3 linked regions of the Homo sapiens genome follow. The protein of the gene in region 1 purifies or fractionates together with the protein of each later gene. This does not show direct contact. Each region holds a gene or a part of one and is shown on either strand. Other genes may lie near its edges.

Region 1 (3,651 bases):
GAGGCTGGGCATTGGGAGTGAGCTGCAGGGAGGCAGAGGGGCGGCCTCGGGTGATGGTGGGAGGGCGCCTGGATCCAGCTGTGCCTGATGCCTGCGCTTTTACTTATAGGCCCTCCCCAGCCACTGCCGCTGTTCCCAGTTCTCAGCCCAAAACTGAAGCACCACAAGCAAGTCCCTTAGCCAAGCCGTTACAGTCCTCGTCTCCCCGGGTGCTTGGCCTCCCTTCGAGGATGGAACCGCCAGCCCCGCTGAGCACGAGCAGTACCTCTCAGGCATCCGCGTTGCCCCCGGCAGGCAGGAGGAACTTGGCGGAATCCTCAGGGGTCGGCAGGGTGGGTGCTGGCTCCAGGCCGAAGCCAGAGGCCCCGATGGCAAAGGGTAAAAGCACCACCTTAACGCAGGGTGAGTAAGGGGCTGGGAGGCAGGAGGCCCCGGGGGCCCGCAGCTCTGGGACTCTCCCCTGGCCGCACTCTGCAGTGTGTGCGGTTTCATCATCAGCCCCGCCCGCCTTCCTCTCCGTCTCATCTCTGTCCTCCGTGACACCTGCTCGCAGCCTCCTGGGGTCCTGGTGCGCTCTCTGTGTGGTGGCTGCAAATGTCCTCAGGGCTATGCTGTTTGCCGGCACCCAGCCCACCCCATCCGCACGTCCTGCAGGTGCCTGCAGCCCAGCCCTGCAGCGTCCCGCTCAGCTCGGTCTGGCAGTTACATCCTGTGGCTAGCAGTGGCCTGGCTTGGCCGTGGTCTGTGGGGCCTCCTGTTCTCCCGTGGTGTTTTGCGCTTCCTGCCTGTCGCTTTGACAACGTCGCGCTGTTGCTGTGGCACCCTGTGTCACCACATACCGGAGATGGTGCCCTATGCCCCGTCCCCCCTGTGGTGTCCCGGTGACGGTGCCCTATGCCCCGTCCCCTCCGCTGGTGTCCCAGTATGCCCTGTCCCCCTGGTGGTGTCCAGGTGAGAGCGCCCTGTGCTCCGTCCCCCCCGGTGGTGGTCTGGTGACGATGCCCTATGACCTGAGGGCTCTGGTGCCTCCTAGGCTGGGAGCTCTTCCTGGGGGCTCCCTGGACCACACAGTCCTGTTTTATGGCCTCACGTGTTTTCGGGAACAGGGAGCGAGCTTTCTTCTAGGCAACTGGCTGTCACCCACCAGGGGTTAGCCCCCTGGGTGATCATGGCCAGGCTGGGCAGGACGTGGGCTTAGGGCTTGTGAGGCCAACCCTGTGCCAGCTGGGAGGCCCAGGGCACTGGGATGGCCAGGCTACGCAGTGAGCTGTCAGCTGTGCCAGGACAGACCCCAGGCTCCTGGCGGCCCTGCTTTGATGCACGGCTCTGTCTCCCAACCTGGGGGCAGCCGAGTCCCCCCGCCTCGCCCCACTGCAGGAAACTGGCTGTCCCTGCCACCTGGGTGTGTGTAGAAAAAAGCTAGAGGTTCCCATGGCTTTATCGAGCTGGGCTCAGGGAACAAGCTGGGCTGCAAAGGGTTTTTCCAGATCCTTCTCTTTGGCTGAGTTCTCATTGTTAAAGCCACGCGCTGGATCCTGCAGGACCCAGGAGCCAAGAAAGCCTGCAGACGGGCAGCCGTGGCTCAGGTGTTCCCCTTGCACAGGTGGACAGAGGATCAGGGTCCACGGGGCTCACCCTGCCACGTCCCCACCCATTCGGCAGAAGGGGAAGTTGAGGCCCAGAGGCAGGGAGAGCTTCCCCCAGGGACACACAGCACAGGAGAGCCAGCTGGGAGCCCCTCCCCTGACTCCCTGCCCGGTGCTCCTGATGCCCCCCGGCCGGCTGGCTGTGGGGGTGTCTGAGGGTGGAGTGGCTATGGGAAGATGGCAGGGGGAGGCACAGCCACCCTTGCAGACACCCCATTCCCAGCACTCCTTCCTCACACCCAGACCCCTTGCCTCCCACCCAGACATGAGCACCAGCCTCCAGGAAGGCCAGGAGGACGGGCCGGCAGGATGGAGAGCGAATCTGAAGCCCGTGGACAGGAGAAGCCCAGCTGAGAGGTTAGGGATGGGTGGGGCTGGCCCAGGGCCTGGTACACCATAGGTGCTTAATAAATGCAGTGAGTATGTAATCGACCGATTGACACGCCTATCCAGGGATAGACGCACCTCCCTGTGAGTAGCAGAGGCCAGGTCACCCCTGCCTGAGGGACATGGGGGCCGCTGTCCCTGGTTTGGGGGCAGCGTTGCGTGTCTCACCTGGGCATGGCAGCACCCGTGTGGGTTCACGCACCATGCCTGCAGCTGGGGTGGAGTCTCCCCATGTGTGGGTCCCGTGGGGCCCGGAGCTCACGCCTGGAATCTGCTTCGCACCACGGCAGGTAGCGATGGACACGTGTGTTTGCAGGAGGGTCCCAGCAGGTGTAGTCAGTGGGCTGGGAGGTGGCATTTGCTCAGAAGGCCACCTGCTCCCTCCGGCTGGTCTGCATATGGCCTGGGAGCCCCTCCAGGTGGGCCAGGCCCTGGGGCTGGTGGTTCGGGTTCCGACCTCATGCCTTCTGCCCAGGACTCTGAAGCCCAAGGAACCACGGGCCCTGGCAGAGCCGAGGGCGGGGGAGGCCCCCAGGAAGGTCTCAGGCAGCTTTGCTGGGAGTGTCCACATCACCCTGACCCCCGTGAGGCCTGACAGGACCCCACGCCCAGCCAGCCCAGGACCCAGCCTCCCAGGTACTCCTGGACGGGACCCAGGGGCCCCCGGGTTGCCTAGCTGGCCCTCCCCCTTGGGTGGGGGCCCCGGGACTGGACCTGTAGTGCCACCTCCTGGGGTGTGCGGAGAGGCGCTCCGGTCAGCCAGAGAAGCTGGTAGTCCTGGGCAGGCTTGTGTGTACATGTGTGCATGTGTGTGATGCATGTGTGCATGTGTTCATGTATGTGATGCCTGTATCCATGCGTGATGCATGTGTGCGCATGTGTACATCTGTGTTCATGTGTGTGATGCATGTGCACGTGATGCATGTCCATGTGTCTGTTCATGTATGTGATGTGTGATGCATGTGTATTCATGTGTACATCAGTGTTCATGCGTGTGATGCATGTGTACATGTGTGATGCGTGTCCATGTGTCTGTGTTCGTGTATGTGATGCATGTGTGCCCACACGTGATGCATGTGTCCATGTGTACATCTGTGTTCATGTGCGATGCATGTGTGTCCATGTGTACATCTGTGTGATGCATGTGTGTGCAACCGTGTTCATGTATGTGGTGCATGTACCCATGTGTGGATCTGTTTCATGAATGTGATGCATGTGTGTCCACGTGTGCACCCGTGTTCGTGTGTGATGCGTGTGTGTGCACACACATCTCTGTGTGTATTCCTAGCACTCATAGCTGCCCTGGATCCATATCCAGCTCTCGTGCCACTTCCTGTGTGACCTTGAGCAGCCAGCAGCCCCGTGGGTTAGCCCCCTGGGGAGACATGGCCAGGTTGGGCAGGACGTGGGTGTAGGGCTTGTGATGCCAACCCTGTGCCAGTCGGGAGGCCCAGGGCATGGGGATGGCCGGGCTACCCAGCGAGCTGTTGGCTGTGCTGGGACAGACCCCAGGCTCCCAGTGGCCCTGCTCTGAAGCGTGGCTCTGTCTCCCCACCTGGGGGCAGCCAGGTCCCCCTCCCCACCCCGCCGCAGGAGACTGGCCGTCCCTGCCAGCCTC
Region 2 (2,752 bases), on another chromosome or scaffold:
ATCCTTGAGCGCGTTCCTGTGGGGTGTCCAGCAGGAGAGAGGAACAGGGATGTGAGCAGAAGTCTGCATGGAAAGAACGTTCCAGCTCCCGGGGTTGAATTCCGGACGCGGTGCCTCCCACAGATGGTGACTCATCAGTGCTGTCCCTGTCAGAGGACGAGGCCCATGAAGGCTCCTGAGTTCTCCCTGGAGCCAGGGGTGTGCGAATGACAGAGGATTGGGATCCTGGTGCCCCCAAGGGGAGAGGCGCTTCCTCCAGGGTGGGCCTGTCGTGCCGTCCATCCTCACTCCGGGAGATGCTCAGGGATGGATGGAGAGCCCTTCCCGTTCTCCCGGTTCTGCTGCCACAGGAGCCTTCTCAGCCGTGCACGGCACCCTGGTCCCACTTTGCCAGCCTGAGGGCCTCTGGGTTCAATTCCCCCCACGGTGGGCGAGGTCCCCTTCCCCAGCCCAGCTCAGGCCTCCAGACTGGGATGGGGTGCCGTCGGCCCAGTGCTGCCTCGAGCACCCACATCTCGTCCTGGCACCCACAGGCAGAGACCCCAAGAACAACCTGGAAGCCTTGGAGGACTTTGAGAAAGCCGCAGGAGCCCGCGGACTCAGCACGGAGAGCATCCTCATCCCCAGGCAGAGCGGTAGGAGGCATGGCCCTGCAGAGCCCCCCATGTCCCCGCGTGGGGACATCAGCAGAGCTGCATTGCACGGGCGCATAACTGTGCTGCGTCTAATTCTGGCTTTGTCCTTCCTGGGGTGGTGGAGCTGGTGGCTGATGAGGGGCCCCGGTCCTGACTGCATTCCTGGGGTCTCCTAACGCCTGTGCTTCCTTTTCCTGCAGAAACCTGCTCTCCAGGGAGCGATTAGGGTGAGTGAACAGCTTTAGAGGACATTTGAGAAAATCCAGTTCTGGGGCTCAGTGGTGCTTCCAGAGGCCATGGGGTCTCTCCCACCCATCCCACTCCTACCTGGGTGGGAGATGCCCCACGTAGGTCAGGCAGGTGGGAGCTCTGCTCCTGAGCTGCCCACGCTCGGGCGTCAGACTCCGTTCTTGCCCTGGGTGTGACTCCTGGGCAGCTGGGAAGCCCACAGCGCTGAGCCCGCCTTTGCTGGCTGCTGGTGGAGACGGTGTCTACCCCCCAGTCACATGGGCAGGAGCAGGCAGGAGATTCGGGTTCCTCCTCAGCACCCCTCACCCTCGGCCATGCCTGTGACTCCACTTACCCGATAAGTTGCTCAAAGATTCAGCAAAGTGGCAGGCGTGCCTGTGCTCGCTGTGTCAGATGGGCCCCTTGCTGGCTGCACAAGGGGACCAGAGTTTGGAGACTCGCCCAAGGTCACCTGCCCAGGTGTGGGCAGAGCCAGAATCCTGGACAGCATCGCTGTCCTTCCCGCACCCTCCCCTTGGCCTGCAGTCACCCTGATGCCACTTCACTCAGCAGGGAGCTCTGTCAGCAGCCTGCGGGGGTGGTCCCTGCTCCATCCGCTCCAATCTAGAGGCTGGAGCCCCCACCTGCAGCCCCCAAGAGTCCGTGTGTGCCCCCCACACCATCGCCCCCAAGAGCTCGCATGTGCCCACCACACCATAGCCCCCTAGAGCCCGGTGCACGTCCCCCACACCATTGCCTCTGAGATCCAGCACGTGCCCCCGCAACCATCGCCCCCGAGAGCCCGCATGTGCCTTCCACCGTAACCCTCAAGAGCCCAGTGTGTACCCCCACCATAGCCCCCGAGAGCCCACATGTGCCCACACACCATAGCCCCCGAGAGCCCACATGTGCCCCCCACACCATGCCCCTGAGAGCCCACATGTGCCCCCCACACCATCACCCCTGAGAGCCTGCTGTGCCCCCCACACCATAGCCCCCGAGAGCCTGCATGTGCCCTCCACATCACAGCCCCCAAGAGTGCAGCGTGTGCCCCCCACACCATGCCCCTGAGAGCTCACATGGGCCCCCACACTGCAGCACCCAAGAGCCCACATGCGCCCCCACATTGCATCCCCCTCCCACCCTTGCTGTCCTGGCCTCACTCACCCTCCCCCCCTTTCCAGGGCAGGGGACACCTTGGCTCCTCAGCAGCCCAAGGACGGCACCATCCAGCACCTCCGTCATTCACAGGGACATGGAAAAAGCTCCCCACCCCTGCAGAACGCGGCTGGCTGCACCCCTTCCTACCACCCCCCGCCTTCCCCCTGCCCTGCGCCCCCTCTCCTGGTTCTCCATAAAGAGCTTCAGCAGTTCCCAGTGACTCCGCCTGTCTGTGGGGTCCCTCGGGGTGAGAGGTGCTGGCTGGGTGCTCTTTTGGGTGCAGGGACTGGGTGGGAAGCAGGAGGAAGGACAGGGAACCAGCCTGGACCCAGTTCTCCCTGGTGGGTGCCACAGGCCAACAGTGGGAGGGGCCTAGCAGGGGGGTGTGTGCTGGAGGCTGGGCCTGAAGGTCCCGGGGTGCTTCCTGCAGGTCAGCCGCCCGCTGAGCTCAGGCTGTAGGGGTTGCGGGGGTGGGGGCAGGGCTCCACTCCTCGGTCCTGCACAAGTAAGACCGGAAGGCCTGGGACCAAGCGCAGCTGCCACCCAGAGGGGACTGGGCAGAGCCACCAGTGCCCTCAGCACTGATGCTGAGTCCGTGAGGCTGGACGTGGGGGGAGGGGACAGCAGCTCAAGGCAGGGTGTGGCTCGGGCTTGAGCTCACCGGGGAAGCCAGTCCTGTCCTCCGGGGAGCCACACCAGCACTGCCCCCAGAGCCTGGCTCCACGCTG
Region 3 (3,651 bases), on another chromosome or scaffold:
CTTTGTTGCCCAGGCCAGTCTCAGAGTTCTGGGATTACAGGCACCCAGCCCCATTTTCAAACATTTCTAACAGGTAAAGTAATACAGGTATGAAGGAATGTTAAGATTCTTAGAAATACTGACTTAAATTCTGTTATGTATTTCTGAAAGGTTATTCTCGAATGTTGGTGGCATATAGGGAGGCAAGGGGAAGAAATAGTTTGTAAATGTCAGTAGGTTTAGCAGTGGTGTGGTAGATGGGGATTCCCAGTGGAGTCTTCTAGGATTTGTGATTGGATACAGATTGATACCCTTAGGCAGCAGCCACTGCTTCTAGCAGCTTTAAATAGCCATTTCAAGGCTTATTCAAGTATAAATAACCAGTAGCCAGTTTTTTCCTGATTTGATAGAGGAAGTCAGTCCTTGGTCTAGATGGGTACTTGTCATACAGTAGGAAAAAGGGCGGGGGCAGTTGTCCTTTATTCTGCCTCTGCACTATTCACATGTGGAGCACAGTGATTTGTGAGAGTATGTATAACCTTCGTGAACATCACTGGCCTCAGAACCCTCCCTTGCCAAATTTACCTGCATCTGTGCAAAGACAAGTGGAGATATTGATGATATGTGCATATCCCAGAGGGAATAGCGTTTGCTTTTTGATGCATGCCCACCCTTGCATAATTGGGAGGTTTTAACATAGCATATTTCACCATAAAGGAATTTTATTCTAAGAATGTTAATCAGAATATCCCTAAGTAACAGAAGTTCCCATCTGGTCAGTTGCAAGGTGACCAAAACACTTTCTTGGTTTGAGTATAGTCATATGTTCTGTCAAATGATGTTTTGGTCAACAGTGGACTTCATGTAAGGTAGTTAGTGGTCCTGTAAGATTAGAATGGAACTGAGAAATTCCTGTCACTTAGTGACATCATAGGCATAATGTCATAGTGCAATGCATTACTCTTGTTTGTGGTAGTGCTGGTGTAAACCTATTGCACTGCCAGTTGTGTAAAAGTACAACAGGCCACGCGTGGTGGCTCATGCCTGTAGTCCCAGCACTTTGGGAGGCCAAGGCAGGTGGACCACTTGAGGTCAGGAGTTCGAGACCAGCCTGGCCAACATGGTGAAACCCCATCTCTACTAAAAATACAAAAATTAGCTGGGCTTGGTGGCATGCATATGCCTGTAATCCCAGTTACTCAGGAGGCTGAGGCAGGAGAATCACTTGAACCTGGGAGGTGGAGGTTGCAGTGAGCAAAGATTGCACCACTGCTCTCCAGCCTGGGCGAAAGAGTGAGACTGCATCTCCAAAAAAAAAAAAAAAAAAAAAAAAAAGTATAACACAATTATATAGAGTACATAATACTTGATAATGGTAATAAACAGCTATGTTATATATTTACCTTTTTTTTTTCTTTTTTTTGAGACAGAGTTTCGCTCTTGTTGCCCAGGCTGGAGTGCAGTGACGCGATCTCAGTTCACCACAACCTCTGCCTCTCAGGTTCAAGTGATTCTCCTGCCTCAGCCTCCTGAGTAGCTGGGATTATAGGCGTGCACCACCACACCTGGCTAATTTTTTGTATTTTTAGTAGAGACGGGGTTTCACCGTGTTAGCCAGGATGGTATTGATCTCCCGACCTCAGGTGATCCGCCTGCCTCGGCCTCCCAAAGTGTTGGGATTACAGGCTTGAGTCACTACGCAGGGCCCTGGAATATATTCTTATTTTAAAAAACTAGTTAAAACCGACTCAGGCATGTCCTTCAGGTGGCATTCCAGGAAAAAAAGCTTCGTTATCCTGGGAGGTGATGGCTCCATGCATGTTACTGCCCCTGAAGACCTTCCAGTGAAGATGTGGAGGCGGAATATAGTGTTACTGATGATCCTGACTCTGTAGGCCTAGGCTAATGTGTGTGTATATGGCTTAGTTTTTAACAAAAGTTTAAAAAGTGAAAAATATTTTTAAAAATAGGAAAAGGCTTAATAGGATAAGGATATAAAGAAAATATTGTACAGCTGTATGATATGCTTTTGTTTTAAGCTAATCGTTACTAGAAAATTCAAAATGTTTAAAAATTTTTTTAAGTTTCTAAAGTAAAAAATGTTAAGTAAGCAAAGGTTAATTTATTCTTGAAGAAAGAAAAATATTTTTATCTTTATTACTGTATATACATTGTGCCTTTTCTGTGTTTAGATATGTTTAGATATACAAGCACATTGTGTTACAGTAGCCTGCAGTATTCAGTACAGTAACATACTGTGCATCATGCTTTGTAGCCTAAGAGCAATAGACTATACCATCTAGGTTTGTGTAAGTCCACTCTGTGATGTTTGCACAACAACAAAATCACCTCACTGTGCATCTCTCAGGAAGTTTCCCTTTGGTAAATGATGCATAACTGGACTTGTCTGACACCATTTTAACCTTCCCCCTAGTCCTACCTCTCATTCTCAAGATTTGGAGAAATCAAAATCTAAGTTTTCATAATAAAAGGTTAGGTATATTGGGTGTTACATAGCTTTCACTAATGTCATATCTAGCAGTTGTAATCACGTATTTTAAAACTTTAAATAGTAAATTAAGAAGGAATCTTTATAGGTACTTGTATGTTTCCTCAATGTGGTTTGAATTGAGCGTTTTATTTAAATTACTATCAAATACTTGAGCCAAACTAGCGAGACAAAAAGACCAGACCTTTTCTTTTTTCCGAGATGGAGTCTCACACTGTTGTCCAGGCTGGAGTGCAGTGGTGCAGTCTCGGCTCACTGCAGCCTCCGCCTCCTGGGTTCTAGCGATTCTCCTGCCTCAGCCTCCTGAGTAGCTGGGATTACAGGCGCCTGCCACCATGCCCAGCTAATTTTCTGTATTTTTAGTAGTAGAGATGGGATTTCACTAAATCTCGAACACCTGACCTTGTGATTTGCCCACCTTGGCCTCCCAAATTGCTGGGATTACTGGGGTGAGCCACCGCGCCCGGCCGAGACCAGACTTCTGAGGGGGAGAAACTTGCAAACCTGTCAGTGAGAAAGAGTGAGGTCTGATTTTAGATGACAGAAAGGAATAGCTTTTGTGAATTTCGGACTCCCAACTACTAGAATTATGTGAATCCTGAATGATAATCAGATGTTTACTCAGTTAAGTGTTTACTCAAATATTAATAAGTATTGATACATTGGGATGCCATCTTATATAATGATTAACGACACAGATTCTGGGTGTATTTCAGCCCCAGTTTCTTCTGCATATATGATAGTAAGTGCCTTCAAACAATTCTTGACACATTAAAGGTCAGAAAATGTTAGCCGTCATTATTGCTTAGTACAAACCTGAGCTAGGAAATACTAACAGAGAGCTCTTTGTGCCACTGAGTCCTGGAACTTCCCCATACTAATTTTGAGAAGGCTTTCTTGTAAGTATGTGACAGATACTGTTTCCTCCACTTTCTGTTTATTGCATATAACCACTATTCTTGTATGTAAGTACGTATAACAGTTTCTTTACTATTCCCATTATTCAGCGTTTATAATCTGGTTTGACATATCAGTGTTGGTGCTGAGAGGGAAAGGTATTTCTAGGTAGGATAAAATGGTGAAAAGTGATTTAACACTGTTGTATGCTTGCTTTTGGCCAGGAACTATAGGGCAGTGTATCTTAAACTTTGAGTCTTGAGACC

The links.
Region 2: the proteins of MICALL2 (region 1) and LCN1 purify together in Homo sapiens (affinity purification with mass spectrometry, with the first as the bait; one large-scale study listed by BioGRID). This does not show direct contact.
Region 3: the proteins of MICALL2 (region 1) and PPP1CB purify together in Homo sapiens (affinity purification with mass spectrometry, with the first as the bait; one large-scale study listed by BioGRID). This does not show direct contact.

What each region holds. Positions count from the first base shown.
Region 1 is NC_000007.14:1,438,943-1,442,593, reverse strand, and holds part of MICALL2 (MICAL-like protein 2), read left to right. Parts: intron 1-109; coding exon 110-402; exon of another isoform or gene 403-1,431; coding exon of another isoform or gene 1,432-1,909; coding exon 1,910-2,003; intron 2,004-2,508; coding exon 2,509-2,669; intron 2,670-3,598; coding exon 3,599-3,651. UniProt on the Homo sapiens protein: Effector of small Rab GTPases which is involved in junctional complexes assembly through the regulation of cell adhesion molecules transport to the plasma membrane and actin cytoskeleton reorganization.
Region 2 is NC_000009.12:135,524,297-135,527,048, forward strand, and holds the end of LCN1 (lipocalin-1 isoform 1 precursor), read left to right. Parts: exon of another isoform or gene 1-206; coding exon of another isoform or gene 207-533; coding exon 534-635; coding exon of another isoform or gene 636-811; exon of another isoform or gene 812-835; coding exon 836-861; coding exon of another isoform or gene 862-862; intron 863-2,047; coding exon of another isoform or gene 2,048-2,221; 3' UTR 2,222-2,244; downstream 2,245-2,752. UniProt on the Homo sapiens protein: Could play a role in taste reception. Could be necessary for the concentration and delivery of sapid molecules in the gustatory system.
Region 3 is NC_000002.12:28,758,233-28,761,883, forward strand, and holds part of PPP1CB (serine/threonine-protein phosphatase PP1-beta catalytic subunit), read left to right. Parts: intron 1-3,651. UniProt on the Homo sapiens protein: Protein phosphatase that associates with over 200 regulatory proteins to form highly specific holoenzymes which dephosphorylate hundreds of biological targets.